4 linked regions of the Homo sapiens genome follow. The protein of the gene in region 3 purifies or fractionates together with the protein of the main gene of each other region. This does not show direct contact. Each region holds a gene or a part of one and is shown on either strand. Other genes may lie near its edges.

The links.
Region 1: the proteins of RASSF3 (region 3) and STRN purify together in Homo sapiens (affinity purification with mass spectrometry; one large-scale study listed by BioGRID and IntAct). This does not show direct contact.
Region 2: the proteins of RASSF3 (region 3) and MAP1S purify together in Homo sapiens (affinity purification with mass spectrometry; one large-scale study listed by BioGRID and IntAct). This does not show direct contact.
Region 4: the proteins of RASSF3 (region 3) and FGFR1OP2 purify together in Homo sapiens (affinity purification with mass spectrometry; one large-scale study listed by BioGRID and IntAct). This does not show direct contact.

What each region holds. Positions count from the first base shown.
Region 1 is NC_000002.12:36,839,599-36,847,518, forward strand, and holds part of STRN (striatin), read right to left. Parts: 3' UTR 1-7,920. UniProt on the Homo sapiens protein: Calmodulin-binding scaffolding protein which is the center of the striatin-interacting phosphatase and kinase (STRIPAK) complexes.
Region 2 is NC_000019.10:17,731,098-17,738,284, forward strand, and holds the end of MAP1S (microtubule-associated protein 1S), read left to right. Parts: intron 1-2,095; coding exon 2,096-2,331; intron 2,332-3,169; exon of another isoform or gene 3,170-3,175; coding exon 3,176-3,331; 3' UTR 3,332-3,416; downstream 3,417-7,187. UniProt on the Homo sapiens protein: Microtubule-associated protein that mediates aggregation of mitochondria resulting in cell death and genomic destruction (MAGD). Plays a role in anchoring the microtubule organizing center to the centrosomes. Binds to DNA. Plays a role in apoptosis.
Region 3 is NC_000012.12:64,612,576-64,620,495, reverse strand, and holds part of RASSF3 (ras association domain-containing protein 3), read right to left. Parts: intron 1-7,920.
Region 4 is NC_000012.12:26,938,861-26,946,780, reverse strand, and holds part of FGFR1OP2 (FGFR1 oncogene partner 2), read right to left. Parts: intron 1-7,920. UniProt on the Homo sapiens protein: May be involved in wound healing pathway.

The sequences.
Region 1 (7,920 bases), on a different chromosome or scaffold from region 3:
TTTCATAGATGAGAAGCCAATTTAGAAGAGTTGACTTGTCTAAAATCTAACAGACAATAAATGTCCTATTGTCCAGGCCAAATTCCTGCTTTCTTCTGTGTTGAACTGATCTTAAAGGAATCATATTTTTAGTAATTTTAATGACAGTTCTTACATGGTATATGTTTAATGTTGAGATTATTCGTTGAATATTTCATATGTAATTTGCTGATTCTTTTAATGATTTAAAGTCATTTGAATATTAAATATAAATAGTTGGTCTCTAACTTGTTGACTGTTTTATTCCTAAAACAATTGCACTGTTCAGCTAAAGCCCTGGGCCCTGCTGGAGTGCTGTCAGAAAACCAAAGACAGAGATGTTCCTAGGAGAGTTAATAAACATTGGTACAATTACTATAAAATCTTCAAGACAAAAACCAGCCTGAGAGCATCCTGAGGAACTTTGTCCCAGAATTTTCCTCTCCAAAGAAAGCTCCCCAGAGGGATGCCTTTCCTGACAAGATTCCACTGGGAGGTTCGTCTTTCTCCTGGACAACAGCAGTCAGTAGGGCCATCTGTAGGTTGCAAGGAAAGAGTGTGGAAGTGGACCTGTTCTGAGCCCAGGATAATCAAGGCAGGCTCAGGTTCCAGGCTAGAAAAGCTCCCTTTCAACTGATCAGAGGCCAGTGGGGAACAGGGGATGAGCAGAGGAGATATGGGGGTCCGGGGATAGATGGGAGGTCATCAACAGGGTTTAGGGACACCTTCCTGTCCCCACCATGCTCTGCTCAGTTTTCACGCAGGCAGGACTGGAACTGTGCAGTATAAAGACGTTGCTACTCAGGCATTTTGTTGCTACCTGTGAGGTAAAGTCCAAATTCCTCTCCAGTCAAGGTGCAGACCTCAATCTCAGGATAAGCTCCACAGAACCAAATGCATTTGAGCATCAACTGTCAAGAGATTTTTTTTTTTTTTTTTTGGTCTTTGATGATTTGTATAATTTAGATTTTGAAATGGGCTCTCTGATTACTCAGCCAACAAATATTTATAGGGTACCTTTTATATGGCAAGGCACCAGGCACAGTGCTAAGAGGAACATAAGAAAAACGAACATGGTCTGTGCCTTAGGGAGCTTATATAGACAAAAGCAAACAAATAATCATTAACCTTTATTTTTGTAGGTGACAAATGAGCAATGCATAATATGCAAAATCTGGGTTAAGGGAGAGAATCAAGATATTCAGAAAAAAAATCTCATTACCTGCTCCTCATGCCTCAAAAAAAATCCAGAAGATTTTGAAATGCAGGAGATAAACATCACATATTCCTTATTAATCTTTGTATTCCAAAAATAATTTCTGAAAATCACAGGAAAGAAAACTTTTGTGTATTTATTAGCAGAGGCAAGCTATACTATCAATTGGACACCTCAAGGGCACAAAATTGCCTGGAACTACAACCTTCAAGTTCAAAATTTCTACCTCCAGAAAGCAATGATGTTTCTAAAGATTCTCTTATTTTTTAATTGTGATTAGTAGATGTGTATTCCTACGTATTCTACAGCAATGAGAAATAAGGAGCACATTCTTTTTTTTTTTTTTTAATCAAATCGATTCTGACAAAAGGAGTTTATTGTCTTGCTTGTTAAAAGGCTGACCAAAAAGAAAGTAAGTCTGAATGTTTCAGAGTTGGGAGAAAGCCTGATTCCTTCTGACCCTGAGATATACAAGGAAACTGAACAAATACCAGGCAGCAAAATACTGAGACATTTACCACATAAGAAAGCATTCTTACATAGCAGTTGAGTACTGGGAAGGTTGTTGGGGAGGGTATTATTCACAAACAACTGTCAAAAGATATGAGACCACCGAGTTTTTCTTTTTCTAAAAATCACACTGAGTGATATTATTCTATCAAGAGGATATTCTGAAATACGTGGGCTATCGAAAAAGATGTAAGTACATTTTAAAAATGTTTTTAAAAGCATAGTCAAAACCATTCAAAAGAGAACTCACTCTGTAAAAACGATTCTCATATTTTTTCATGAGATTATCACTTGGCTACTTTAGGATATTTCTTACATGCCTGGTCTTCATCCTGACATATGCAGATGACACAAAATACTTGGGCTTATATTTTTACAGCTTCCTAAAATATAATGAAAACTATTTCCTCTGACACTTTGCCATGGGGCTCTAGGATACTTTTGATATATTTCCTAAAAATATTTAATTTAGATAACAAGGACCAATGACAAGCCAGAATTGGAACCATTCATTCTTTGAGGTCAGAAGTGGTATACTGCCAGCCCATTGAAGTTGAAATGGAAGACAATGTGGCTCAGGCCACAGGGTCAGTTGCTTCTCCTTTTTGGTAAGGTACTTCTTTCCCCACACTCTCACCCAAGTTATCCAGCCCCCAAAATAAACTGTTTCTGATAAAATTACTTTTGCTCTAAGTTAATTTTGTTTATGCATGAAAAATTATTGTCTTGGTCCCATTTCCAAAGGGAAGTAGTTGGATGCCAGCATACTTTAACATTTCGGCACATATACAAACCACAAGCTGTTTATTTCTACAACTCACGATTAATGTAAAACGTTGCTTTCCATGTGCTTTTTTTTCTTAAAGTTTTCAGTTTGGGCATATTTAATTGTGGATGATGGGTTTCCCTACCATTACCCTTAATTTGATGCTATTAGAATTTTTAAAAATCTTTTGTTTGAGGCAATGAATTGGGAACCTGGTACATACACTAGATTTTATGATGGCATAAGAAATTATAGCACATAAATTAATAACACTATAGTACTCCAAGTGCTGTTTAACAGATGTTTTACTGTGGGCTCTCCTTTACATCACTGGGTTAATTACCTAAAGAGGGACACAGAAAAAGTCAATGTGGAGCTGGCATCTGGACCACTCTTCACGTAAGGTGAATGGCTAAATCACCAAGGACAAGATACTTTTCTATGAAATAGGTCCTTCCTATCAGTAGGTTATTGCAGACTTTGCTCACCCAAATAATGACTTCCAATCTAACTGAAACTACCATTACCTTTAGTGAAATATCAATTAGGAATAAGGAAAGGGTTAGGTTTTGTAGGGTTTGAGTGATACTTAGAAGCGAGTCATTTTATGTTTGGTGGGTTTTGAATCATTTGATATACAAAACTTACTGAGTTAAAATTTGTGTTTCAGAAAACGGATTCCAATTTTCAGAGCCGTATGTCAGTGCTTCCTTAGAGAACTGGAGTGTTCTGGTCATCCTGAGAAGTAACAGGCGGAGGGATGCTCCATGATTATAATGTTTAGGTTAAAAGGTATGCTTGACTCCCAAGGTGTTCTGGGAATATTTTATGTGCCAGGACAATGCTGGGGCCCTGCAAAACATCAGTGATCTTGGGAAACCCAGAGGAGGTCAGAATACTACCTGGCAATCTTAGGCTGACCCCAGGAGGTTCATCAATCCGTGAATAATTTTTGGAGTTTTAATGACCTCCTGAGATAGATCTCCAAAATTACTCAAGCTAATCATGTCTCAGTTCTCATTAAAAAGATAAAAGAGGTGTTTCCAACACTACTGAAAATGTGTGTACATACCAAAGGATATAATACTCATTAGTATACCAGCATACAGAACACCAAACAATGGTGGATAGTTTCAAGGATATCAGAAGAGATGCCTTTTAAATTTCATATTGTATTGTGGATCCTGATTGGAACAAAAAGACTGTGAGTTCTGGGCAGGCCAAAGGCCTTGAAAAATAATGTTGATTTGAAGGGGCAGGGAGTGTGGAAGGCTTGTGTATGTCTGTTAAGTAGCGAAACAAAAAATAAAAACATTGTATTTATATATGTGTATAAATTTTAAAAGCCATTTAAACTGAACATTTGAAAAACATAAAACCTATTCATTAAACATATGTGTCTCTGAAAGTACCACTGACCCAATCCTAGAAGCTATTTTAATTTGGCTTTTCAGAGGCCCAAATTCTCTATAAACTTCTCCTTCCTCACAATCAGTAATTAAGACTGGTTCATTAATTTTGGACTCATGTATACTTTGTCTAATATCCTTTTATTTCTCTGCACCCCTCTACAACTCCTCCCCCAAAAGCCCCAAATCAGACTATGTTAATTTAACTGATTACTGTAAAGCCACAGCTAGATCCCAAATCTGACAAATATTCCAATTCATGAGACACCTATAGCATGTTATCTATATTTGTACACTTTATTTAAAAACAAATAATACACTTAGAGCCACCAAAGATGGATATCTTAATTAGCTTATCCATACCCTGAATTTACATAAGAAACTTCTTGCACCACAAAAATTAGCATTTGGATTAATTTACATTAATTGATGTAACTAAAATTTAAAATACCTGAAGATCAAACAATCTGGCCCAGGGCTCACCAGCTGGAGGACTGGGTGTGGAGAGAAAGGGTTATTTAGGAATCTGAATTGATGACACCCTGTGGTCAGCTCTAGTCAACTGAACTTGAGAAAACATAAAGTAACCAGCAGATTTCAATATTAAAAAGAAGTGGTTCCTCCTAAAAAAGGTATTAGATCATAGAGTTGGGATTAGGGTAGGGGATACCTATTAATCTGGGCTGGAAAAAAAGTGTGTGGAGAAGGGGAGTTGTATTGTTTTCTCACAAGAGGCAAACTTCAGCCAAACAATGAAGAGATAGTAGGGAGGGAGATGTGTGGTAGACCAAAGACTTTCTGATTGCTGATAATAACAAATTTAGCAGCTCTCTACAAGTCAATTAAAATACCATTCTCTGAGACATTTTCAGAGAGGAGCTAACTAACACCCACCCAGGGGGGAAAAATCATTCTACATTAACAAGGCACTCACTGGTTCACAGCCTGTTAAAAACCCAGGCAGACATTAGAATCTAAATTAAAATGATTTTGAAAATTTGCATCAGAGAGATGACAAGCATGTGGTCCTGGTTAAATTAAATCTAAAGCTTGGATTAGCAAAGATCCAGAAAATTCTGACCCCCTAAGCACCACTTTAGGAATACCGCCAGAATCAATGAGTGGGATCTAGGGATCTGTTTGGCCTAACATTTGTTTTTTTTAGAATTAAAAAAACAAAACAAAAACTGAAAGGATCTGTTAAATACTTTGTCAACCTGGCATCCCTGACACTGACATGAAGATCCAGTTGGATGATGGATATTGCCAATTAAAAAGTTTGTAGTGGCAAAAGTAAAAATGATTCAAATTGACGAATGACCTGTCCTTTGTTTTTAAACACAGATACGTTTTTCTGGGCCTTTCTCTAAAATGAACTTTAGGGCTTGATACATTTCACAAAAATATACATATTTTTCGTCAGCTACTACTTTGTATACAACCTGAATCCCAGTGTCCAACACTTAAAAGTACTGCAATTATATAAATTACTAAACAAGTTAACAGTAATGGAGAGGCAACTTCTGAGTAAATAAAATGAATGATTATGTACTTAATAGCCTTGTAGTCACTTTCAAAGAATAAAGTAATCTAAATAAAATTATACTTAGCACTCTTTTTCATGTAAGTTCAATAATTATTTGGCTATTGGTTGAAAACATCACACAGACAGACACCAACCAAAGATTCATTATCTCCACTCGCTAAAAACATTGATGGTTAATTTTAAGCAATTCTTTCAAAGAAAAACAAAATTAATTCTAAGCCTTTCAGTCTGATTTGTGACATCTTAATACAATATAACTTAAATGACAAAGCCTGAGAAAAGCACCAACATAGATTTTTTTTTAATTGCATCCAACCATCATTTCAGATGTCATAAAGATTTGCTTCAGTTAAAATGGCAGCAATGACAAAGAGGTAGATATGAGAGATGCTTTTTAAATATTTTAAGACTATTCTTAGGTGGAATTTTAACTAGTTCAGGTATTTAACCTAAAAATATTTACTAGTTGAATCTTTACCACATAAGAACTTCATGACATGCTGTTTTGTAAGAGGGAAATATATGAAGTATTAAAAAGTGAGCCTTTAAAAAATTACATTTACTTAGCCAACATTAATGAGATCCCATAATTTTGGTGAACAAATAATTTCTCCTTCTACCTGAACTTTACTATAATTAAAGAATAGCTATTGTTTTCTCTACTGAAATTTCTAGGAATTCACATTCAAAATTCTTGGAAAGTATATATGGTGCTCAGAAGAGCACAAAGCGCATGAAATGTCCCCTGAAGTCCTAGAAGTTGAGCAGATACATTAAAAAGACATTGATGGTCACAAATCAGGACCTTCACAGATTGGTAAACACACACACACACACACACACGCATGCATGCACACACACACACACACACACACACACACACACACACTAACTCTCTCTCTCTCTCTGTGCCCCCCCTCCCACCCCCTCCCCAAACTCAATCTTCATCCTCACTGTAAGGCTGCATTTTTTTTTTTAAAGGCACCTCTCATTTTCTAGCTATTGCCTTCTTGATGATATTTGTTTTTGTTAAAAAGTCTGAATGTTCAATGGAAATAGTTCAGTACTGAGAATAAAATATTTTTCAATTCACATTTGAATAGCCAGGTTTTCTTACATTCAGATTTTAATACACTAGAATGACAGTCTTTAAAACAAGCATGCTAGCCTATAATGAATATTGTATATACAGTAATTTAAACACTTAGAACTATATATTATACTGCAAAAGCAAACAGCACAACACTCATCATACTCATCATTATCTGCTGTGTATACTACCTCCAAAAATGAAAATACAAAACAGTAAAATGCACCTATGGTTTATATATATATATATATATATATATATATATATATATATATAGTTTATATATTATATATATTCTTACAATATATATAATATATATTTATAAAATATACATACATTTTAGACATTTTCAAATAAATCTTCATCATTATCTCCAAAAGAAATTTATAGCAAGAATACTGAAGGAATGAAAGTCAGATTAAAAAAAAAATTTCTCACAAAGTTCATCATCAGTGATGCAGCTCAATTTCCCCCGTTTTAGTCATAACTAAAATGATTATAAAAGCGAAATATTTTGCATAACTAAGTATTTGTTTAATGGCAAAAGTTGTTAAACTTGTTCAATAGAAAAATACTGAAGGTCATTATATCACTTTTGTTAAATAATCTGTCTATGGTTTGAGTAGCAAATGAGCTCCATATGACAGTTGAGTTTTGAGAAGGGTGCTGCAAGCTCCCAGAGATGTATCCACAGCATATGAAAATAAGGCAGGGATCCAAACCTCCCGCTAATTTTCATACTATTCCAATACATTTCAAACAAAATATTTACAAATGAAGCACTATGAAAGCATTTCAATGGCTGTTTAAACATTGAATTTGTTCATTCTGTGAATTTTCATTGAATGTTCAACAGGCTAGGGGAAAAGTCAGACACATGTATATGCTACTCTGGTTGGAAGACAGCTTTGGCTCATTTCTAGGCTGAGATCATGCAGTGCTGGTAGAGAAGACTCTCTCCGTAGTCTCCAATGCCACAGCACTGGCTTTCTAAGGAACTTTCAACAGTTCCATTTGCGCTACAGTCTATGTATCTCATGGTTATTTTCCACTCACTGACAGAAAAATTTCAACCATGAAGCATAAAATGAACGGGGGAAGAATGTCCTGGTTTTTAGAATTTCAGTGACATTAATAAAGCAGTAACTGAAGATCTTAGAAGGTAATTAATAACTGGTAGAACAATAGCTTTGTGGTCATCCATCATAAATACACCAAGTAATGGCATCTTCCTTCCTTCCTTCCTGGAAGGAATTTTCCAGTATCCTTCTACAAATGTTAGGTTAGAAACATTCTTTCTTCACTGTGAAGAACCAAAAGAAATTTACTGAACACAATATGGAATTCTGTATCTGCATGGAAATA
Region 2 (7,187 bases), on a different chromosome or scaffold from region 3:
TTGGCCAGGCTGGTTTCAAACTCCTGACCTCAAGTGATCTGCCCGCCTCGGCCTCCCAGAGTACTAAGATTATAGATGTGAGTCACCATGCCTGGTCAAATCCAACAGTGAGAAGCTTCTACCCCATGTTTTCTTCCAGGAGTTTTAAGTTTTCCATTTCACATTTAGGTCCATTTGGAGGTAATTTTTGTATGTGGTGAAAAGATCCAGTGTCATTCTCTTGCATGTGGAAGCCCAGCTTTCCCAGCACCATTTGTTGAAAAGACTATCCTTTCCCCATTGAATGTTTGGAACGCTTGTTGAAGATCATTTCAGCATACATGTGATGATTTATTTCCGGGCCTCTATTGTATTCCATTGGTCTATATGTCTGTCTTTATGCCAGTGCCACGCTGTTTTGATTACTGTAGCTTTGTAGTAAGTTTTGAAATCTGGAAGTGTGAGTCCTCTATCTTGATTCTTCTATTTCATGATTGTTTAATCTCCTTTTCACATTGTTCATTGTTCATGTATAGAAATTCAACTGTGTTTTGCCTGTGGACTTTGTACCTTGCTTCTTTGCTGAATTCGTTTATTATTATTTTTTGAGATGGAGTCTCACTCTGTCGCCCAGGCTGGAGTGCAGTGGCACAATCTCAGCTCACTGCAACCTCCACTTCCTGGGTTCAAGCAGTTCTCCTGCCTCTGCCTCCCGAGTAGCTGGGATTACAGGCACCTGCCACCACGCCCAGCTAATTTTTGTATTTTTAGTAAGAGACAGGGTTTCGCCATGTTGGCTAGGCTGGTCTTGAACTCCTGACCTCAAGTGATCTGCCTGCCTCAGCCTCCCAAAGTGCTGGGATTACAGGCGTGAGCCACTGCACCCCCAGGCCTGATTTTTTACATTATTGTTCATAAAGTCTGTTGAACTGGCATTTTCTTGTAGAATTAAATATCTGTGCCTGGCTTTGGTATTAAGACAATTCTGGTCTTATAAAATGAGTTAGGAAGTGTTCCTTCCTCTTCAGTTCCTCGGAAAAGTTTGAGAAAGGCTGATGTTAGTTCTCTAAATGTTTAGTGGCTTCCCCAGGGCTTTTCTTTGTTGGGAGGTCGTAAGTTACTGATTCATTCTCCTTGCTAGCTACAGGTATGTGCTGATTTTCTATTTTTGTGATTGTGTCTTGGTAGTTTTTGTGTTTCTAGGAATGTGTCCATTTCGGCTGAGGGTATGCATTTGTTGGTATACAGACGGGGTAGTACTCTTACCCCCTGAGCTGGGCAGCAGCTGTGATTGTAAGATGCAGGGTCTGGCAGGCTTCTTGTGCCCGAGACCCAGCCGTATCCTTTCATTTCATTGATCATTCACTTGCCCAGGGCTGGTGGCCTTGTCCCCTTTGGCCCTAAGGTCAGGGTTTGGACAAGGCCCCCAGAGCTGCTGTCTCATCCGCATCCAGCATCCCGCAGTGATCTTGGGCCCGCCTCTCAAGGCTCTGTCCACCCACCCTGGCTCCCCATCACCCTTGGGGCAGGGATTCTGTCTGTCTTGGTCACAGCCCTGTTTCAGGGCCTGGTGCCCATGAGGTTCTGTTAAATGCCCCTTGAGCAAGTGAACCAGACAAATGCTGCAGAAGCAGCAGATGGTCCAGGCACTGGCTGCTTTCAGGGCTCAAACTCTTAAACCCTCTTCCAGGAAGCATTCCCTGATTGCCACCCACTCGCCCCCCAGCCCTGGGGATGTCTATGTCCAGGGACTGGCTGGGGATGAGTCAGGCTCTAGGCACAAAGGGGTGGCCGGTGGTGTTTGTAGAGTGAGTGAAGAGTCACTGGAGTCAAGGCGTGGTGACATGCACCTGTAGTCCCATCTACTTGGAAGGCTGAGGCAGGAGGATCACTTGAGCCCAGGAGTTTGTGACGAGCCTGGGCAGCATAGCGAGACCCCATTTCTTAAAATAAGATTCACTGGAGTCATGAGCGCACCAGGCCTCCCCAGAAAACTCTGAGTTCAGGCCTCCTGCTGAGGAGGGAGCTGCTCTGAGTGGTGCAGGTCGAACTTGGAGCCTCGGCCCCTCCCCAGCCCCAGGAGCTCATCCCTGCCTCCCCATCCCCCCGCCCGCAGGGTCAGCCAGCAGCCGGCCCGGGGTGTCAGCCACCCCACCCAAGTCCCCGGTCTACCTGGACCTGGCCTACCTGCCCAGCGGGAGCAGCGCCCACCTGGTGGATGAGGAGTTCTTCCAGCGCGTGCGCGCGCTCTGCTACGTCATCAGTGGCCAGGACCAGCGCAAGGAGGAAGGCATGCGGGCCGTCCTGGACGCGCTACTGGCCAGCAAGCAGCATTGGGACCGTGACCTGCAGGTGCGTGTCACCCCAGGGCCTCTGGTGGTAAGTGTAGTTAGCACAGATGGGTAAAACCACCCTCGACCCTCAGAGACTAAGCTGTGTTCCCCAGGCCACACGGGAATGGGGGCGAATGTGGGAGTCTCACATGGCTCAGCCCTTAGGGGTCTCTTCGGACTCTGATTCTGTCGTGTCACTGTTGTCATTGGCTGTGCTGGAAGCCTGGGGGAGGACGCAGGGCCTCGTGAAGCCTCATGGTTCTATCCCTTCCCCAGACACCTTGTCACTTAGCCATTGTTCCGCTGTGAGAATTAGTCGGGATGGAATAGGTGGGCTGGGTGGTATCTGTGCGGCTGAGAACCCTCCCCCATGGCTGCATGAAGCTGAGAGACTGAAACCAAGCCCTGCAGGGCGAGGTGCATGTGGGCAGAGGGAGGACCGCCTCACACCGCGGCCCCTGCCCTCTCATAGCTGCTAGGCTGGCTTCAAAGGAGTGTCCCTGTAGGGTGCACGACCCAGGAAAAGGCCCAGAGGTAGGAAAGAGGTTGGTGTGTTCAAGGAGCAGGGGGAGATCCAAGTGAGTAGAGAGGGGTCTCAGGCCAAGGAAGGCCTTGCAGAGGAGGAGCTCCGTCTCCTGTGTGCTGAGAAGGCTCTTTGGGTGCTGGTTGGGAGGAACAGGGACCTCACAGACGGGCTGACCACCCATTGCAGACCTCAAGGTGGAGCACACAAGATCAGGGAAAAGCCAGGAGGGGTCTCAAATGCCAGGAAAGGAAGGCGACTTGGGCCCAGGCCAGAAGGGCAGGGGGCACCCCCCTCACTGGTGGTCCACTCTCCCCACACACCCCCCCTCCACCTGCAGGTGACCCTGATCCCCACTTTCGACTCGGTGGCCATGCATACGTGGTACGCAGAGACGCACGCCCGGCACCAGGCGCTGGGCATCACGGTGTTGGGCAGCAACAGCATGGTGTCCATGCAGGATGACGCCTTCCCGGCCTGCAAGGTGGAGTTCTAGCCCCATCGCCGACACGCCCCCCACTCAGCCCAGCCCGCCTGTCCCTAGATTCAGCCACATCAGAAATAAACTGTGACTACACTTGGCTGTGGCCTCTCTTCTTTCTGTGATGGGAGACTTGGCATGTACCTCCTGGTCCTGCGGGTGGGGACAGCTTCCATGGAATCCCCAGTGACCCTGCGGTCAGGCCCACTCTGGCCTCCATGTCGCAGATGGGAGAAATGCAGGCTTCGCTGGGCCTGGTTTGGGGAAGGAAGTGCCTCTCAGAGTTAATGACCACTGACCGGTGGAGCTCCTGACTATGGCCTCCATCCCGACTCAGCAACTGTGAGGGGCCCAAGTTATAGGCGCGAAGTAGCTACCTGACTATCTGTCACACAAACCAGTTGGTGGCAGGGGGAGATTGAATACCTGTCTCTGCTCCAAAGCCATCAAACAAAAGCTATCCTGCTGTCCCTAGAGGAGATGGATGCTTATTCCAGAAAGTCTTACTCTGCAGGAAGGATTTACAGAGGAATCTGAAACCCAGAGATTACAGAATATCCACTTCTGACTAATGCACCCTGACCCCTCTCTGCAGAAATACAAGCACTTAGGTTTACTATTAGATACAATGTCATCTGTACTGGGTTGAATGGCAGCCAGCCCCCAAAACACATTCAACACCTGACCCCTGACACCTGTGAATGTGATGTTATTTTGAAAAAGGATCTTTGCAGATACAGTTTTATTATTTTTTGAGATGGAGTCTTGCTCTGTCACCCACGCTGGAGTGCAGTGGGGCGATCTTGGCTCACTGCAACCCCCGCCTCCTAGATTCAAGCGATTCTTGTGCCTCAGCCTCTCTAGTAGCTGGGATTACAGGCACACGCCACCACGCCCGGCTAATTTTTGTATTTTTAGTAGAGACGGGGTTTCACCAGGTTGGCCAGGCTGGTCTCGAACTCCTGACCTCAGATGATCCACCCGCCTCGGTCTCCCGAAGTGCTGGATTACAGGTGTGAGCCACCATATGCCTGGCCCTTCACAGGGTCTTACGGTCACAGGGTAGGTGATCAGGAAGGGCAGGTGGAGCAGAGGAGCCATGCCTGTGCCTGCCACCTCCTGTCCAATGCCTGCTAGCAATGCCAAGATCGCTAAGCTCAGCCAGCCACCTCCCACTTCCACCTACCCACCCTCCACACCTCTGCAGCGGAAACTTAACAGGGATGGGAGTCCTGGGAGAAAGGCCCCAGCCTAGGCGAGTTGACACAGCAGTGCAAAGCCAGCCCTGCCCAGTTCCCCATCAGCTGGCACTCAAGTTATGGCCTTTTCTCCGTTGCCAGGGTAAGGATGGACCTCTTCTGGGGTCACCATTTATACATGAGGATGATTCCCCTGGGTTTCTTGTTTTGGCCAAACTGTCTAGTGACCCCTGCTGCCTACTTGTTCTTATTTCAATTGTCCCGTTATCAGGGAGGTTTCTTTCTATTTATGGGCTCTTTCTTTTTTTTTTTTTTTTGAGACAGTTTCTCTCTCTTGTCCAGGCTGGAGTGCAATGGTGCAATCTCAGCTCACAGCAACCTCAGGCTCCGAGGTTCAAGCAATTCTCGTGCCTCAGGCTCCCGAGTAGCTGGGATTACCGGCATGTTCCACCATGCCCGGCTAATTTTTGTATTTTTAGTAGAAATGGGGTTTTGCCATGTTGACCAAGCTGGTCTCAAACTCCCGGCCTCAAGTGATCCACCCACTTCAGCCTCCCAAAGTACTGGGATTCCAGGCATGAGCCACCGTGCCCAGCCCAGGCCTTTTTCCTTCTTTCTCTTGAGACAGGGTCTCGCTCAGTCACCTAGATGACTGCAGTGGCACAATGTCGGCTCACTGCAACCTCTGCCTCCTGGGCTTAAGTGATCCTCCCACCTCAGCCTCCTGAGTAGCTGGGACTGCCTGGCTAATTTTTTGTATTTTTGGTAGAGCCGGGGTTTTGCCATGTTGGCCAGGCTGGTCTTGAACTCCTAACCTCAGGTGATCCACCCACTTTGGCCTCCCAAAGTGCTAGGATTACAGGCATGAGCCACTGGGCCCAGCCCTTTTTTTTTCTTTTGAGACAGGGCCTCACTGTTGCCCAGGCTGGAGGGCAGTGGCATGATCATGTCTCATTGCAGCCTCGACCTCCCAGACTCAAGTGATCCTCCGACCTTGGCCTCCCAAGTAAGTAGGACCACAGGTGTGCGTCACCACACCCGCCTAATTTCTTTTATTATTTGTAGAGATGAGATCTCACTATGTTGCCCAGGCTGATCATGAACTCCTGGGCTCAAGCGATCCTACTTCGGCCTCCCAAAGTGCTGGGATTTACAGGCGTGAGCCACTGTGCCTGGCTTACAGGCCTTTTTCTAATTAGCTGGTTTGATATTTTTCTCATTGGGTATTTGTCTTTTTCTCATTCCTACACAATTTTCTTTTTTAAATTAGGGATAATAAACTTATGTGGTAAATGTTTTCCAAATGTACTTTTCCATTTTGTTTAGGCATGATTTTGCTGTAGAGATATATATATTTTTTTGATGGTCTCTCGTTGCCCAGGCTGGAGTGCAGTGGGTGGGATCACAGTCACTGCAGCCTGGAACTTCTAGCTTCAAGTGATCCTCCCACCTCAGCCTCCCAAAGTGCTGGAATTACAGGCATGAGCCACTGCACCTGGCCAAACTGCAACTTTTTTTTTAAAACGGAGTCTTGCTCTGTCACCCAGGCTGGAGTGCAGTGGCGCGATCTTGGCTCACTGCAAGCTCTGCCTCCCGGGTTCACGCCATTCTCCTGCCTCAGCCTCCCGAGTAGCTGGGACTACAGGCGCCTGCCACCACGCCCAGCTAACTTTTTTTTTGTAATTTTAGTAGAGATGGTGTTTCTGTCTCTATTAAGATGAGGAGAGTACATAGAACTTGCCAGTCATTTCAACAAATGTTGTAAATGGACAGAAATCTCTAGTTAAAAGGCAAAAGGTGGCTGGGCACGGTGGTTCATGCCTGTAATCCCAGCACTTTGGGAGGCTGAGGTGGGCAGATCACTTGAGGTCAGGATTTCGAGACCCCCAACTTGGGCAATGTAGTGAAACCCCATCTCCACTAAAAATACAAAAATTAGCCAGGCATGGTGGCACATGCCTGTAATCCCAGCTACTCAGGAGGAGGCTGAGGCAGGAGAATCACTTAAACCTGGGAGGAAGGACGTTGCAGTGAGGCGATCGTGCCACTGCATTCCAACCTGGGCGACAGAGCAAGACTCTGAAAAAAAAAAAAAAAAAAAAAAAAAGCCAAAGAATAAACTTTGTTGGTATTGTAAGCCATATAGTCTGTCCAGACCACTGAATTCCTTTGTTGTAGGCTGAACAGACTACAACAAATGGGTGTGGTATAAACATAGAACCAGTCCAATCTGGTTCAGCTTTGTTAGTAACAAAATGTAACAAAATGATGAGTCGTTTTTCAGTGCAATGGACCCCCAGGGTGCAAGTCACATATCGCTGGAGCATTAACAGATGAACAAAGCATGCCCAATTCATAACCCTTGGGTGGAATGAAAAAGTCAACTACAGGTAGAACCCAAGTACTCGGATCAAGGAATGGGGACTATGCTGGGCGTGGTGACTCATGCCTGTAATCCCAGCACTTTGGGAGGCCCAGGCAGACGGATCACCTGAGGTCAGGAGTTCGAGCCTGGCCAACATGGTGAAACCGTCTCTACTAAAAATACAAAAGAAACTAACGGGGCATGGTGGTGCGCACCTGTAATCCCAGCTACTCAGGAGGCTGAGGCAGGGAGAGTTGCTTGAACCCAGGAAGTAGAGATTGCAGTGAGCTGAGATCCCACCGTCACT
Region 3 (7,920 bases):
GAATTACCATATGATTCTATAGCAACTGTTACTTATGGGTATATATCGCAAAAAGTTTTAAGAGGGGTCTTTAAGAGATATTTGTACACCCCTGTTCACAGCATCATTATTCACATGAGCCAAAAGGTGGAAGCAATCCTAATGTCTATGGAAGAATCAATGGATAAACAAAAAGTGATATATACATACAATGGATATATTATTCAGCCTTTAAAAGGAAGGAAATTCTGACACATACTCCAACATGAATAAATCTTGATGACATCAAGCTAAGTAAACTAAGCCAGTTACAAAAAAACAATTACTACACAAATTCACTTATCTAGACTAGTCAGACGAACCTATATACGCCCCCCATGAAGGCAGGTTTCAATCTGTTTCGTTCACCACCAAATCTCTAGCACTTAGTCTAGCATCATTGTGAATATTCAATACTTGAAAAATGAATTCAGAAAACTACACACACACACACACACACACAGTCAACCTGCACTAATTTCTTTTTTTTTTTTTTTTGATATAAAGTCTCACTCTGTTGCCCAAGCTGGAGTGCAGTGGCGCAATCTCGGCTCACCACAACCTCCACCTCCCAGGTTCAAGCGATTCTCCTGTCTCAGCCTACCGAGTAGCTGGGAGTACAGGCATGCACCACCATGCCTGCCTAATTTTTGTATTTTTAGTAGAGACGGGGTTTCACTATATTGGCCAGGTTAGTCTTGAACTCCCGACCTCGTGATCCGCCCGCCTTGGCCTCCCAATGTGCTGGGATTACAGGCGTGAGCCACCACGCCTGGCAACCTGCACTAATTTTAAGTGAACTCTTTGCTGACTATATTCTAAGTCCGTTAACTCCAAGATCTTCTAAATCCATCCTTCTGGTCTCCAATTCCCAAACTCACCCTTTTTCCTCCTCTAATTATCTCACCTTGTTTAGCATCTGGAAAAAGAACCAAGTGAGGCAATATATAATTAGTAAATTATTCTTAGCTGACTGAATCATGTAGCAGCAGTTAGCAATTACAGTCCACAAAATGCAAAATATTAAGCTTGCTCCTTTAATACTCTATGAAACATGAGCCCTCTTCTGTCCTTAAACTGAAGGCAGAGTTGCACCGAGAATGCCATTAGGTCAGTTTTATCTTATTGGCTCATGTGGAAAAAAAAAAGGGAAGTTCCCCACACAAAAGTTTCACAACCCCAAAATGCTGGTATGTGTGTCCCTGGATAGGCTGAGAAGAAACTATCCCCAACAGTAAAGGGCAAGTTCCCCTTCACAAAGAAAAATCTTCCCAACACACCAGGCTGGTACCCCCACATCCATCCATCTGCAGCCACCAAGACAATGGAGATTCAAACCTCTGGCAAGGGCTGCCAGCCCTGCTTCAGCAAACAGCATTGTTCAACAAAAATATCATGCGAGCCACATGCATAATTTTAAGTTTTCCATAGCCATGCTAAAAAATAAGTAACATTAAATTTACTTAACTCAAATATTATCGAATATTATCATTTCAACATGTAATTGCAATTTTTTAATTATCATATTTTACATTCTTTCTTTTTTTTTATTATTATACTTTAAGTTTTAGGGTACATTTCTAATCTTCAAAATCCAGTGTGTATTTTTCACAGCAATCTCAATCAGACTAGCCACGTTTCGATTGCTTAAAAACTACATGTAGCTAGTGACTACTGTATTGTACAGCACAGTTTTAGAATGGTCACTTCTATCTCAGAATATATTTTCTGATTTGTTACTTAAGTTTTTACATATATTTCAAATACTCATCATTTTTTATGGGTTCTGACATCCTTCCTAGAGCATTATCTGGCCCTCTCCATTTAAAAAAAACAAAAACAAAAACAAAAGGCCGGGCGTGGTGGCTCACGCCTGTAATCCCAGCACTTTGGGAGGCCAAGGAGGGCAGATCATGAGGTCAGGAGTTTGAGACCAGTCTGGCCAACATGGTATAACCCCGTCTCTACTTTAAAAATACAAAAATTAGCCGGGGATGGTGGCATGCCCCTGTAATCCCAGCTACTTGGGAGGCTGAGGCAGGAGAATTGCTTGAACCCAGGAGGTGGAGGTTGCAGTGAGCCGAGATCACGCCACTGCACTCCAGCCTGGGCAACAGATCAAGACTTGTCTCAAAAAAAATAAAAATAAAATTAAGCAAACAAAAGCTATTTGACAACACTACTGATAGCCAAACCAGAACTACCTGTTTAAACTATTAAGAAAAACCTGGAATACTCAGGAGGCTAAGGCAGGAGGATCATGTGGGCCCAGGAGTTCGAGGCTATAGGGCACTATTATCATGCCTGTGAATAACAATTGCATTTTAGCTTGGGCAACATAGCAAGATCCCATCTCTTTAAAAATGAAAAAAGAAAAGAAAAAAGAGACCTGGAAAATAAACCAAATTTGATTTGGTTAATTTTGGTTAACATTTTGGTGAATTAACCAGTTTGGTTAACGCTGGTTGAAGTTATTTAAAAAACATTTTCTAACCTTGAAGATGATTACGTTTCTGTTGGAAGACAGTCATCAATAAGGAAATGTGATTGTTTTACACAGGGACGTAAAACAGGAAGTGATACACTTCCACGTCAACATTCCCATCTAAACAGATGTATAGGGCCGGGCACGGTAGCTCATTCCTGTAATCCCAGCACTTTGGGAGGCCGAGGCGGGCAGATCACAAGGTCAGGAGTTCAAGACCAGCCTGGCCAATATGGTGAAACCCCATCCCTACTAAAAATATAAAAAATTAGCCCCATGTGGTGGCACGCACCTGTAATCCCAGCTACTGGGGAGGCTGAGGCAGGGGAATTGCTTGAACCCAGGAGGCAGAGGTTGCGGTGAGTGGAGATCGCATCATTGTACTCCAGCCTGGGTGACAGAGCAAGACTCCGTCTCAACCAATCAATCAATCAATGTATAGCTTTACCACACTACAAAATAGGTGTGTTCCTGAAAAACTACATTTCAAAGTTTCCTCAAATACACTAAAGGAGCAAGCTCTTTAGGGAAAAATTAGAGAGATATTTTCATTTGCCTATTGGGTAAGCTTTTTAAAAACATTGCCAAAAGAGGCCAGGGACTGTGTATTGTTCACCACCCTAACCCCAGAGGTTAGAACAGTATCTGGCACATAGGAGGCACACAATAAATTGTCAACTAAATATATTAATGAATAAATGATGAGTTTTCTTAAAACAAGGGGAAAGTATATAAAGTGAGTTATGCTTAACCAGTAATCACAGATATTACCAATATCATCCCATTTTAAATCACTACTACCTGTAAGATACTGTGAAGGCTTATGGTCTAGTTTGGAAAGGGGGAGACATTGTGTACATTTGTGTATAAAGGAAAACTAACAGTACCAAATACTGGGACATCCATCCAAAATGAGCAGGCTTTCATTTGTTCAAGCACCTTAAGTGCCAAGCATTTATATTATGTAGTAGGTAAAAAATGCTAGTCTCTGTCCTCATTAAACAAAATATAATGATAAATTATAATTTTTGCTATGAAGGGAAAGAACAGCGGGCTTTAAGACTTTTCTGAGTCGACATGTTAAGGAGAATGGAGGGCGGCAACTCCAGGCCATGGTTCTGAGATGGCGATGGGGCCTGAAAGGAATTAAAGAGAAGGCTAATATTGTTGGAGTCCTAAAAGCTCTTACATCACAGGGTGAACAATAAGCGGGGCCTTGTAATAGAGGTAATGCCTGCTTGCCATGAGAATAAAAACTTCCTACAAGGCAAATGTGTGTAGCTCTTCAAACAGAGGAAGATGCAAAGAGGCTAAGTTAGCCAAGACTTGTCATATAGAAGAGAAGCTCCTTTGCATGCATTTATCATATATCCTACTGTCTTTTCACCATCCCCTCTGAAGAGGGACTGCTAGCCAATGGCCTTTGGCCAAATTAGGAGTGAAATACACGTTTCAAACTGGGGCCTTTATTGAAAGACAGCTACTTATGCTTGGAGACTTGGGGGTGGAAAATGCGAGGGCTAATGCCCAGGGCTAAGAGTTGGTGATCAGGCCACACTAGAAAGTATTTGGTCAGACTCAGTTTTTTTTTCTCCCAGAAAAAGAATGTTAACCGTATGACATGCACTGACTGCCAAAGGAAGTCTAAAAAGAATAACCACATTATTGGATATTTTTAGCCTTTCTTTTCAAAAATGTTTTGTGTCACTGCTTTCCAAATAATTCCAAATCTTGTGAGTTGGCCAGAAGAAGAAATGGGATAAGGAGTATACTACTCAAATATGAGGCTTTATAGGACTGGAAACTTTTTCTTCTGAAATTCATTTAAAGGAATATGCCTTTGTGAATCTTGCTCACACAAACACAAAATTCCAATGGATTAATATCGTGTAAGAACAGAACATATCAGACATGCAGAAAAGATGTGTAAATCACCTTGCCCTAGGCAAAATGTCTGGTGAAAATGTTTATGCCCCATAATACGGGAATTAAAAATCAGCATTTAAAAAGCTAGTATAGGCCAGGAGTGGTGGCTCACACCTGTAATCCTAGCACTGTGGGAGGCCGAGGTGGGTGGATCACCTGAGGTCAGGAGTTTGAGACCAGTTTGCCCAACATGGTGAAAGCCCGTCTCTACTAAAAATACAAAAAATTAGCCAGGCACTGTGGCGGGAGCCTGTAATCCCAGCTACTCGGGAGGCTGAGGCAGGAGAATCATTTGAACCCAGGAGGCAGATGTTGCAGAGCCGAGATCACACCACTGCACTCCAGCCTGGGTGACAAAAGCGAAACTCCGTCTCAAAAAAAAAAAAAGAAAAAGGCTAGTAGAGTCAAAATACCTATTATGTCATAAACCACTATTCTTTTACCCCAGTGATCTAGCTCTAAACTTCTAATGGAAACACTAATAAAAGAGTGCAGCTCATTACTGTTGATTCTAGCAATAAGACACAACCAAATAATTGAGGCACAAAAATATTTGAATAAGAAAGAGAAAACCGAAAGGGTGAAGTTGAGGCCTGCTATGGGGAGTCTAATAGACTTACTTACTGAAGTAAAATTCTTCAGCGCAATTTTTTTTAAAGTGTGGGTTGTTCAGAAGACAATTTCACGTTTCTCAAGACTTCTTGACTACCCTACTTCTAAAGCAAAAATACTGTCTCATTTCCTTATTCCCATGAACTACCAAAGGCTCAGGAGGAGAGGTAGCTTAGCTAAGAGGTAAGACACACTCTGACAGATTATAACTTTAGACCATTTCTATTCTTTGGAAATCTGAATGTGTCCTGTATTTACAGGTAGTTTGATTTTGGTGGGAAATCAAGAAGGCAAATAATAAATTACACAACTGTCCACATTTTTGGTTTTGCTGAAAACAATGATTAGGTGGATCCTTTGAAACACAGCGAATCCACAAATACGTGAATCCACAAATACAAATTATAAACACTGTCATGACTATATGCAGGTCAGGGAGTTGAAATTTTAAGAAACAGCCAGGCGCGGTGGCTCATGCCTATAATCCCAGCACTTTGGGAGGCCAAGGAGGGCAGATCACTTAAGGTCAGAAGTTCAAGACCAGCCTGGCCAACATGGCAAAACCCCATCTAGACTAAAATACAAAAAAAAAAGCCAGGCCTGGCAGCGGGTGCCTGTAATCCCAACTACTCAGGAGGCTGAGGTATGAGAATCAATTGATCCTGGGAGATGGAGGTTGCAGTGAGCCAAGATCCTGCCACTGCACTCCAGTCTGGGTGACACAGTAAGAATCTATCTCAAAAAAAAAAAAAAAAGAAAAGAAAAGAAATTTTAAGAAACTCTTAAATTTTAGGTGTCCTTATTTGCAAAGGGAATATGGAGCCATAAAATTATTTTTATAGCTAAAAAGTAACAAAATAGAGAGTGTAATTTGAGTCTGAAAACCTGAGTTCCAGCCTTCTTGCTATCTAGGTGTGGGCCTTATACAATCACTAAATAATACCTCCCCCTTTCATTAAGTTAATGTTTCATACAGTTTTTGGGAGCACCATAAGATACAGTACATTTGAAAATGGTAAAGATCAGGGGCCAGGTGCGGTGGCTCACGCCTGTAATCCCAGCACTTTGGGAGGCCGAGGCGGGCAGATCACCTGAGGTCAGGAATTCAAGACCAGCCTGGCCAACATGGTGAGACCCCGTCTCTACTACAAAATTTAGCTGGATATGGTGGCAGGTGCCTGTGATCCCAGCTACTCGGGAGGCTGAGGCAGGAGAATCGTTTGCACGCGGGAGACGGAGGTTGCAGTGAGCCGAGATCACGCCATTGCACTCCAGCCTGGGCAACAAGAGTGAAACTCCATCTCAAAAAAAAAAAAAAAAAGAAATGGTAAAGACCCAGTTACTATCAAATCAGGAAAACATTCATTCATTCAGCTTGCATTCACTGAGCAACTACTGTATATCAGGTACTGATCGAGACCCTGCGGATACAATAAACATGACATTCAAACTGCCACAAAACGTCATATGTTCGTTCCCTTTATATCTTTTAGACAGTTTTGTTTTTGAGACAGGGTCTCGCTCTGTTGCCCAGGCTGGAGTGCAGTGGTGCGATCACAGCTCACTGCAACCTCTGCCTCCCGGCCTTAAGCAATGCTCCCACCTCAGTCTCCCGAGTAGCTGGGACTACAGGCGAGCACCACCATGCCTGACTAATTTTTGCATTTTTTTTGTAGAGACAGGGTTTCACCATGTTGTCCAGGCTGGTCTCAAACTCCTGGGCTCAAGCAATCCTCCCATCTCAGCCTCCCAAAGTGCTGGAATTACAGGCATGAGCTACCACACGTGGCCTAGACAGGTTTTTTAACCCTTTTCCATTTTTGTTGTTGTTCTTGTTGTTAAGAATGGGGTTTAAAGTAAGAAAAAAAATGAAAACATTTTCTTTATAAGGTTTTTGTTACTGTTGGGGATAGAAAGAAGTTGCACTATGTTCCCTTGCCTGGCAAGAGAAGAAAGAAATTTCCAGTCCACCCGCTCCCTCACCCCTTTCTCCCCATTCTGCATTTACCACAAACATCTTGTTTTCTCCGGATATTTTCAAGAAATCTAGAAACCTCATTTTTCTCACTTTTCCACCAGGTGGTACAGCATCCAAAAAAAAAAAAAATCACTGTATCTCTAATAGATCCTTCTAGCAATACCTCTCTTTCCATCTCTCTAGAGAAAGGATAAATTTCACTACTATGATGTATGTCAGAAGTGCTTATCTTATTCTTATAATCATCAGCATGAAAATGAAGAAAAAGGCTTATCTAACGTTAGATAAAAGGAACATTCTACATTAAGAGTGTTTTGCTTTATATTTATGATGTTTTACTTCCCTAATTCACCAATCTTACCAGGAATTTAAAACATTCATATCACTTCTTTAAATAAACCACAATGCTCACTAAAATTCGTAGTTTAGAACACTTTCTCTGCCTGGCAAATAACTTCTACAACTCAGCACCTTACATGTGTTATGTTAGAAGGGAAAAATATGCAGGCAATAAAGCTTCAAATACACATATGAAGCTCTTCAACCACGAACTATGTCTTCCTGTCCTGATTTCCAACACGATATTTCAAAATACATATTAATGTTAGACTAATTCTAAATGCTAAATAATACTACCCTGAGTATAATATATATGCTAGATGATACATAAATGATTGCATACAACATAGAAACAATAAATGTGCCGGGGGCGGTGGCTCACATCTGTAATCCCTGCACTTTGGGAGGCCAAGGCGGGCAGATTACCTGAGGCCAGGAGTTCGAGACCAGCCTGGCCAACATGGTTAAATCCCATCTCTACTAAAAATACAAAAATGAGCCAGATGTGGTGGTGCATGCCTGTAATCTCAGCTACTCGGGAAGCTGAGGCAAGGGAATCGCT
Region 4 (7,920 bases), about 38 Mb from region 3:
AAAAATGTTCTAAAATCAATTTTGTTGATGGTTACACAACTCTGAATATACTGAAAACCCTAAAAGTGTACACTTTAAATAGGTGAATAGTATGGTATGTGAATTACATATCTCAATAAAGGTGTTATATTTAAGAAAAGAGCTAGAGTGGCTATATAATATCAGACAAGGTCAGGCGCAGTGGCCCACGCCCATATAATCCCAGCACTTTGGGAGGCCAAGGCTGGCAGATCATGAAGCCAGGGGTTCCAGAACAGCCTGGGAAACATGGCCAAACCCCACCTCTACTAAAAATACAAAAAATTAACCGGGCGTGGTGGTACACACCTGCAGTCGCAGCTAGCTGGGAGGTGGAGGTAGGAGGATCACCTAAGCCCAGGAGGTTGAGGCTGCAGTGAGCCACAATCACGCCACTAAACTTTAGCCTGGGCAACAAAGTGAGACTTGCCTCAAAAAATAAATAAATATCAGACAAAGTAAACTTCAGAGAAAAGAAAATTACCAGGGACAGAGGAACATTACATGATGATAAAATGCCCAATCACCAAGAAGACATAAGCATCCTAAATGTATATACAACTATAATTAAAGAGCTTCAAAATACAAATGCACTAACTCAAACAACTGAAGGGATATATAGGCATATCCACCCTTACTGCTGAAAAATTAAACATTCCTTTCTCAGTAACTGGCAGACTTTGTACACAAAAATCAGCAATATAGGCAAAATGAACAGCATCCACTAACTGGCTTGAATTGATATTTATGAAATGCTACAACCAACAACAGCAGAGTACACATTCTTTTTAAGTGCTCAAGATATTCATGAGGATAGATCACATCCTGGATCACAAAACAAACCTTAACAAATTTAAGAGAACTGTAATCATACAAATTATGCTTTTTTTTTTTTTTTTTTGAGACGGAGTTTCACTCTTGTTGCCCAGGCTGGAGTGCGATGGCACATTCTCGGCTCACTGCAACCTCTGCCTCCTGGGTTCAAGCGGTTCTCCTGCCTCAGCCTCCCGAGTGGCTGGGATTACAGGCTCATGCCACCATGTCCGGCTAATTTTTGTATTTTTAGTAGAGATGCGGTTTCACCACGTTGGCCAGGCTGGTCCTGAACGCCTGACCTCAGGTGATCTGCCCGCCTAGGCCTCCCAAAGTGCTGGTATTACAGGCGTGAGCCACCACGCCTAGCCAGTACAAATTATGCTCTCTGATTATAATGAAATTAAACTAAAGTAAGTAATTAAGAGATAACAAGAAAAATCTCCAAACATCTGGAAGTTAAACAATGTACTTCTATATAATAAGTCAAAAAGGAAGTTTCTGGAAATTAGAAGATACTTTGATCTAAATAAACATGAAAATACAAAATATCAAAAATTTTGGCATGTATGTAAAACTCTACTTTGAAGCAAATTTATAGCATTAAATGTTTATATTAGAAAATTAGAAAGATCTCAAATCAATTATGTAAGCCTCAACCTTTAGGAACCTGGAGAAGAAGAGCAAAATAAACCTAAAGTAAATAGAAAGAAATAATAAAGAGTAGAAATCAACGAAATTGAGAACAAGAAAGCAACAGAGAAAACCTAATGAAATAAAAAGCCAGTCCTTGGAAAAAAATAAAAATTGAAAAACCTCCTGAAAAATTAACCAAGAAAAAAAGTCAGCAGACATAAATTACTAATGGAAAGAAGGGATATCAGGAAAGATGAGACATCACTACAGACCTCTAATTCCTTAAAAGGATAAGTGAACACAATAATAAATTCCATACACATGAATTGGATAATTTAAATGAAATGGACTAATTCCTCAAAAAACACAAACTACATAAAGTCACACAAGATGAAACAGACAACTATGAATAATCCTATTATAATTATTTTAAGAAACTGAATTTGTAATTAGAAATCTTCTGCAAAAAATCTCCAGACCTGGATGGCTTCAAGGACAAATTCTATCACACATTTAAAGAAGAAATAACACCAATTATTATACAATCTCTTAAAAAAATAATAGAAAAGGAAATACTTGTAATTTTAATCTCATAAACTGATGTCAGTATTACTGATACCAAAACCAAAGAGAATACAAGAAAACCACAGACTAATATCCTTCATTAACATAAATAAAAAATCCTTAAGGAAATATTAGTAACTCAAATTCAGCAACTCATAATGAGAGTAATATACCCTGACCAATGGGAGTTTATCCCAGATTCAAGGCTGTCTCCAATGTAATCCACTGAAGAAGAAAATCACTTATGCATACCAACTGGCATATTATTAAAAAATTCCGCATACTTTCATAATAAAAATTTTCTGCAAGCTAGAAGAGGATTTTTTTAAACTGAGAAAGGGCATTTTCAGAAAACTTACAGCAAACGTCATACTTCATAATGAATGACTGACTGCTTTCCCAATAAAATTAGGAACAAGGGAAGGATGTCTGCAGTCACCAGTCCTGTTCAATACATTGGTGTAATAAGGCTAGGAAGGGGGGAAAAACCATACAGGCTGGAAAAGAAGAAATAAAACGGCCCCTTTTCACAACCAACATTGTTGTCTATGTAGAAAACCCCAAAGAATCCAAAAAAGAACTCCTAAAACTACTACATGATTTTAGCAATGTCACAGGATACAAGCATAAGAATCAACTGTTTTTCTATATACTGGCAACAAACAAATGGAAACCAAAACTTTTTTTTTTAAAACACACATTTACAATAGCAAAACAAAACAAAACAACAACAACAAAAAAACACAAAAAACAAACCCTGAGATTCCTGGGCACAAATTAAAACATATGCAAAATTTGTTTGCTGATAACTACAAAATGCTAATGAAAGAAACTAAAGAGGATCTAAAAGAATGGAGAAACATACTGTGTTCATGGACTGGAAGACTCAACATAGTAGGGAAGTTTTCTTTTTCTTTTTTTTGAGACAGAGTCTTAGTCTGTCGCCCAGGCTGCTGGAGTGCAGCGGTACGATCTTGGCTCACTGGAACCTCCGCCTCCTGGGTTCAAGCGATTCTCTTGCCTCAGCCTCCAGAGTAGCTGAGATTACAAGCGTGCGCCACCACGCCCAGCTAATTTTTGTATTTTTAGTAGAGATGGGGTTTCGTCATGTTGGCCAGGATGGACTCGAACTCCTGACCTCAAGTGATCCTCCTGCCTTGACTTCCCAAAGTGCTGGGATTACAGGTGTGAGCCACTGCACCCAGCCGAAATGTCAAGTTTTCTGTAACTGTTGTACAAACAGTGCAATTTCCAGTCAAAGTCCCAGCAAGATTTTTTTAGAGAAATTGACAAGCTAATTCTAAAATTAGCTTGGAAATGCAAAGAAACTAGATAACAACAAAACAACTATGAAAACAAAAAAAGTTGAAGAAACTATTTGTTTTCAGTTTTTTTCACACTACCAAAGTTTAAGACTTACTATAAAGCTACTTCAATCAAGGTGGCATAGAGCTGATAGAAACAGAAAAGGTTTAGAGACAGGGCCATACAAAAATGGCCAATGGATTTTTGAAAAAGGTGCAAAGGCAAGTCAAAGGAGAAAGGTTGGCTTTTTTCAACAAATGGTGTTGGAAGAACTGGACATCTATATGCCAAAAGTTTAATCCCAACATAATTCCTACACTTAATACAAAAATTAACTCAAAATGGACCATAAGTCTAAATATAAAATTAAAAACAATAACACTTTCAGGAAAAAAATAAGAGAAAATCTTTGTGACCTGGGGTTAGGCAAAGGTTTTTGTAAACATGATACTAAAAGCATGATTCATAAAAGAAAAATTTGATAAACTGGACCTCATCAAAATCACAAACTTTTGCTCTGGGAAAGACACTGTTTAGAGAGTTTGAAAAGACAAGCTACAGGCTGGGAGAAAATATTTCAAATCACTTATCCAACTAAGGACTTGTATCTAGAATACAAAAAAGTCTCTCAAAACAATAAGAAAATAACCCAAATAAAAATGAATAAAAGACTTTACTAGTGAACCAAAAAGATATGGACAAATAAGAAACATGAAAAGATGTTCAACATCATTAGCCATTAGAGAAATGCAATTAGAACCATCATGAAACCTGTCCTCTTAAAATGACTATCTATTTCTGCATCAATACCACATTGCCTCAAATGTAACAGCTGTAAAATAAACTCTCCCTATCTAATATGTATAAGTCACTGTTTTCTTCTTTAAAATTGCTTCACCTATTTGCCTTCTCTCTAACCTAATTCTATCCAAATGGATCTCTAGAGTACCCTAGAGGAAAATCAAACTGTTACGTAATAATTTTAATTAATTCAAACTGTTGGTAGCTTTCTGAATCTGAGCAATAACTAACTACCTTATACTGTCATTTGGGCAAGAGGACAAGTGTTATTCCCACTTTACCAATGAGAAAATAGACCCAGGAATTCCAAATCTAAAAAGCTGAGTGGCTCACGCCTGTAATCCCAGCACTTTGGGAGGCCAAGGCGGGTGGATCACGAGGTCAGGAGATCGAGACCAGCCTGACCAACATGGTGAAACCCTGTCTGTACTAAAAATGCAAAAACTAGCTGGGTGTGGTGGCGCACGCCTGTAATCCCAGCTACTCTGGAGGCTGAGGCAGGAGAACTGCTTGAGCCCGGAAGGTGGAGGATGCAGTGAGCCGAGATCGCACCATTGCACTCCAGCCTGGGCGACAGAGCAAGATTCCATCACAAACAAACAAACAAACCAACAAAGCTGAATGACAGCACCACAAAGCAAGGAAAGAGCCAAACTAGTACCAAAAATAGAATTTCTGATCCCCAGTCTAGTGTCCTATTCCTAAGCCACACTGGATTCCCAGGGTCCTGTTTGCTTTTTACCTGTATAGAAATAATCTCAATCTCATCAGGTGGAAAACGAAAAAAAGTAAGTTCTCTGACCCTACCCAACACATGGAACATCCAAGATATTTTTTAAAATTTTCAAGCCAGCCATAGAAAAGAAATGGGAATGTATATGAAGACAGATTTTAAAGAATAAAAAAATTTCAAATATTTTCCAGACATAACAGCCTAGCAACCATTTTAATTAGGTGTCACAGTTAATTACAAGATCAATGAATGTTTACTGATTGGCTTTTTAAAGTTGTAATTAATATCCACTTTATGAAAAACACTCTCTCCTCTCCAGATTGCATAATGAAATACTACTATCAAAATCAACTACATTTAAAATTTGTTAACTATAAAAACCTACCTATTCAGGGAAAGGAATTATAAGCAGCAGGTAGCTCAAAGCATAATTTTTTTTAGCATTTCAGAAACACAGTGACAACAGTTTCTAAGAATTTGCATGTTCATTTCCTGTACGTGAAACCACACACACAAAAGTTTAAAATATTTTATAATATGCATTTACTTTATCACCTTTTTTGAAGACCATTGTGCTTCCCCTCTTTTTTGGCCAGGAAGTGGAGTGGGAGGAAGAAGACTGTTTTCCAAACTCTCTAACAAGTTTCAAATTTTAAAAAACAGACTACAGTAAAAAAGGAATATTCTAAACTTTTCGGCCTATTTTTATAGTGCCTACCTTAACTGGCCATAATACACTTACTTACATTATTTTCTATAGGCGGGTCCAAATTACAGGTGAATCTCTTTTTTTTTTTAGCAAGTTAAAAAATTTTTTTTTCTTTTCTGCATTAGTCACATTCTCGCCCACTTTACCACCCAAAGACTTTTGCAGTCAGACTCCTGGCAGAAGGCTTAGAACATTCTGCTGCTGATAAAAGAGAAACCACCACCCACCCAAGACAGCAACTGCCAGCTGTTTACTTTTAGATTTTGGTTAAGAAAAATTTAAGGAAATTCAAGTCAAAATTTTCAAGCCAACCTCAGAAAATAAATAGGAATATAAATGAAATGTAAGAGAAATTAAAGACGAAAAAAATTTCAAATATTTTCTAGGTAATTAATAAAAGCCTAGCAACCATTTTAATTAGGCATCACATTAATTGTAAGATCAATGAATGTTTACTGATTGGACACTTCTGTTTCCCTTATCTGCAAATCCACTACTCCTACCACTACATCTACACAGAAATATTGTGGCTACTGATACACCACAGATCTGTCTTTAAATGTCAACAATCTAGTTTAAATTTTTTCATGTTCAGGTATGTGTCTCTAATATTAATTAGTACATAATATGAACTGACCCATATGGAAATAAAAAAACCAAAAGGTATAGTTATGGTTTTCATATAAACTTATAATCTTATGAATGCAAGAAAGAACGCATATAAATTACATATAAAAATAAGCATTTATAAAGGCACATCGCTGTATGTGAAAGCAAAGAAAATTTTCACTGTCCTTGAAAATAGTGGAATGAATACATGTTTGGAACTGTATAAAGACACTTTCTGAAGAAAATTAATTTTTAAACTTGGAAGAAAGATTTTGGAAGTAATGACACTGGAGGATTTTTTTAAAATTACACGTTCCCTTAGAATTGTGGCTGAATATAAGTTTCACATACATATGTTCAAAGAGTTGTGACAGTTCAAGAAGGAACTAACCTAATCTAAACCAGTTATTTCTAACCTACAGGCTAAGGAGTCAGTAGAAGAGTTGCCTGAATGCACATACTCCAAGCACTGTCTGTAGTCTAAAACATTTCTGCTCCATTTCTCAAATATAAATAGATACTGTAAAAATAAAATACAAAATCATTTAAAAGCATAGTAGTTTTCTGTCATTATACATAATTTCAACCAACAATTACTAAAAGTCCAATTGCATGTGTATTAGAAGTACAGGGTTTCTCATAATCAAAATAGGTCGGGACCTTTAAGCTAATGTACAGAGTTCCTTCTGGCCCAAAATTCTATGATTTTAAAGGATGAAGAACTCTTACGGTGAATTCCTTAGAACTATTCCATTTCAATAAACATACATATGTATATATAAATAATGCTTGCTATGTGCCAAGTACTGGACTTTTTCTCAGAGATGAGTAAGACATGATTCCAGACAGACCCAGGTTCAAATTGGCAGGAGAGACAGAAACAAATAATACAACCTAATAAATACTGCAGAAGAAAAGTTTCAAATGCGTTGGGAGCACAGCGGTATCAATGTCACCTGGGGGAGTCTGAGAAGACAATGATTTATGAATTGGGTTTTGACAGGTGGTAAAATAGAGGAACAGTAAACATCCTAGACATCCGCACGTACAAAAGTACAGAGCTGTCAAAGCGCATGGCATGTTTGGGGAAATAGCCAGTATAGTCTTGTATGGTAGGATATTAAAGCAGGACTAAAAGGTAAAATGGATTGGGGCAGACTGTAAAAGATCCTGAATGATGATGTGCTTAACAATTAGGATTTGATGCTGTCAGCAATACGGTTACTAAAAAGTTTAAGGAAAGGACAGAGATAAATATGTATTTCAGAATAACTCTATGGAAGGATTATAGTAGGGAAACCAGTGGAGGGCGGGGGGCAGAGGGGGCAACCGCACTAATTCTGGCGAAAAAAAAAATAATACAGTGCAGTGTTAAGTGGAAATGAAGAACCAATGATGATTCCTGGTTTTCTAGTTCGGATAGCAGGACAGATACTGGAACCATTATCAGAGATGGGATAGAGAAGAAAGGCAGGAAGAGAACCAGAAAAGAGTAATACCCCTTGGAGAGCAGTTTCAAGAAACAAGTTATCTTCATTAAACGCTGCAAACAGGTGACTGAAAGGGTCCCCCGTCCGGTGGTGAACTCGCAGGTGGGTAAGGCAGGATGAAAGCAGATACGGAAGGTGTGTCCACAGGGTTAGAGCCAAGGCTTTTCATTGAACTTTCCGCACCGCATCTCCATTAAGAGGAGCTCGGAGTCGGGGGGCGCGGAGAGGAAGTCCGGCTCCCA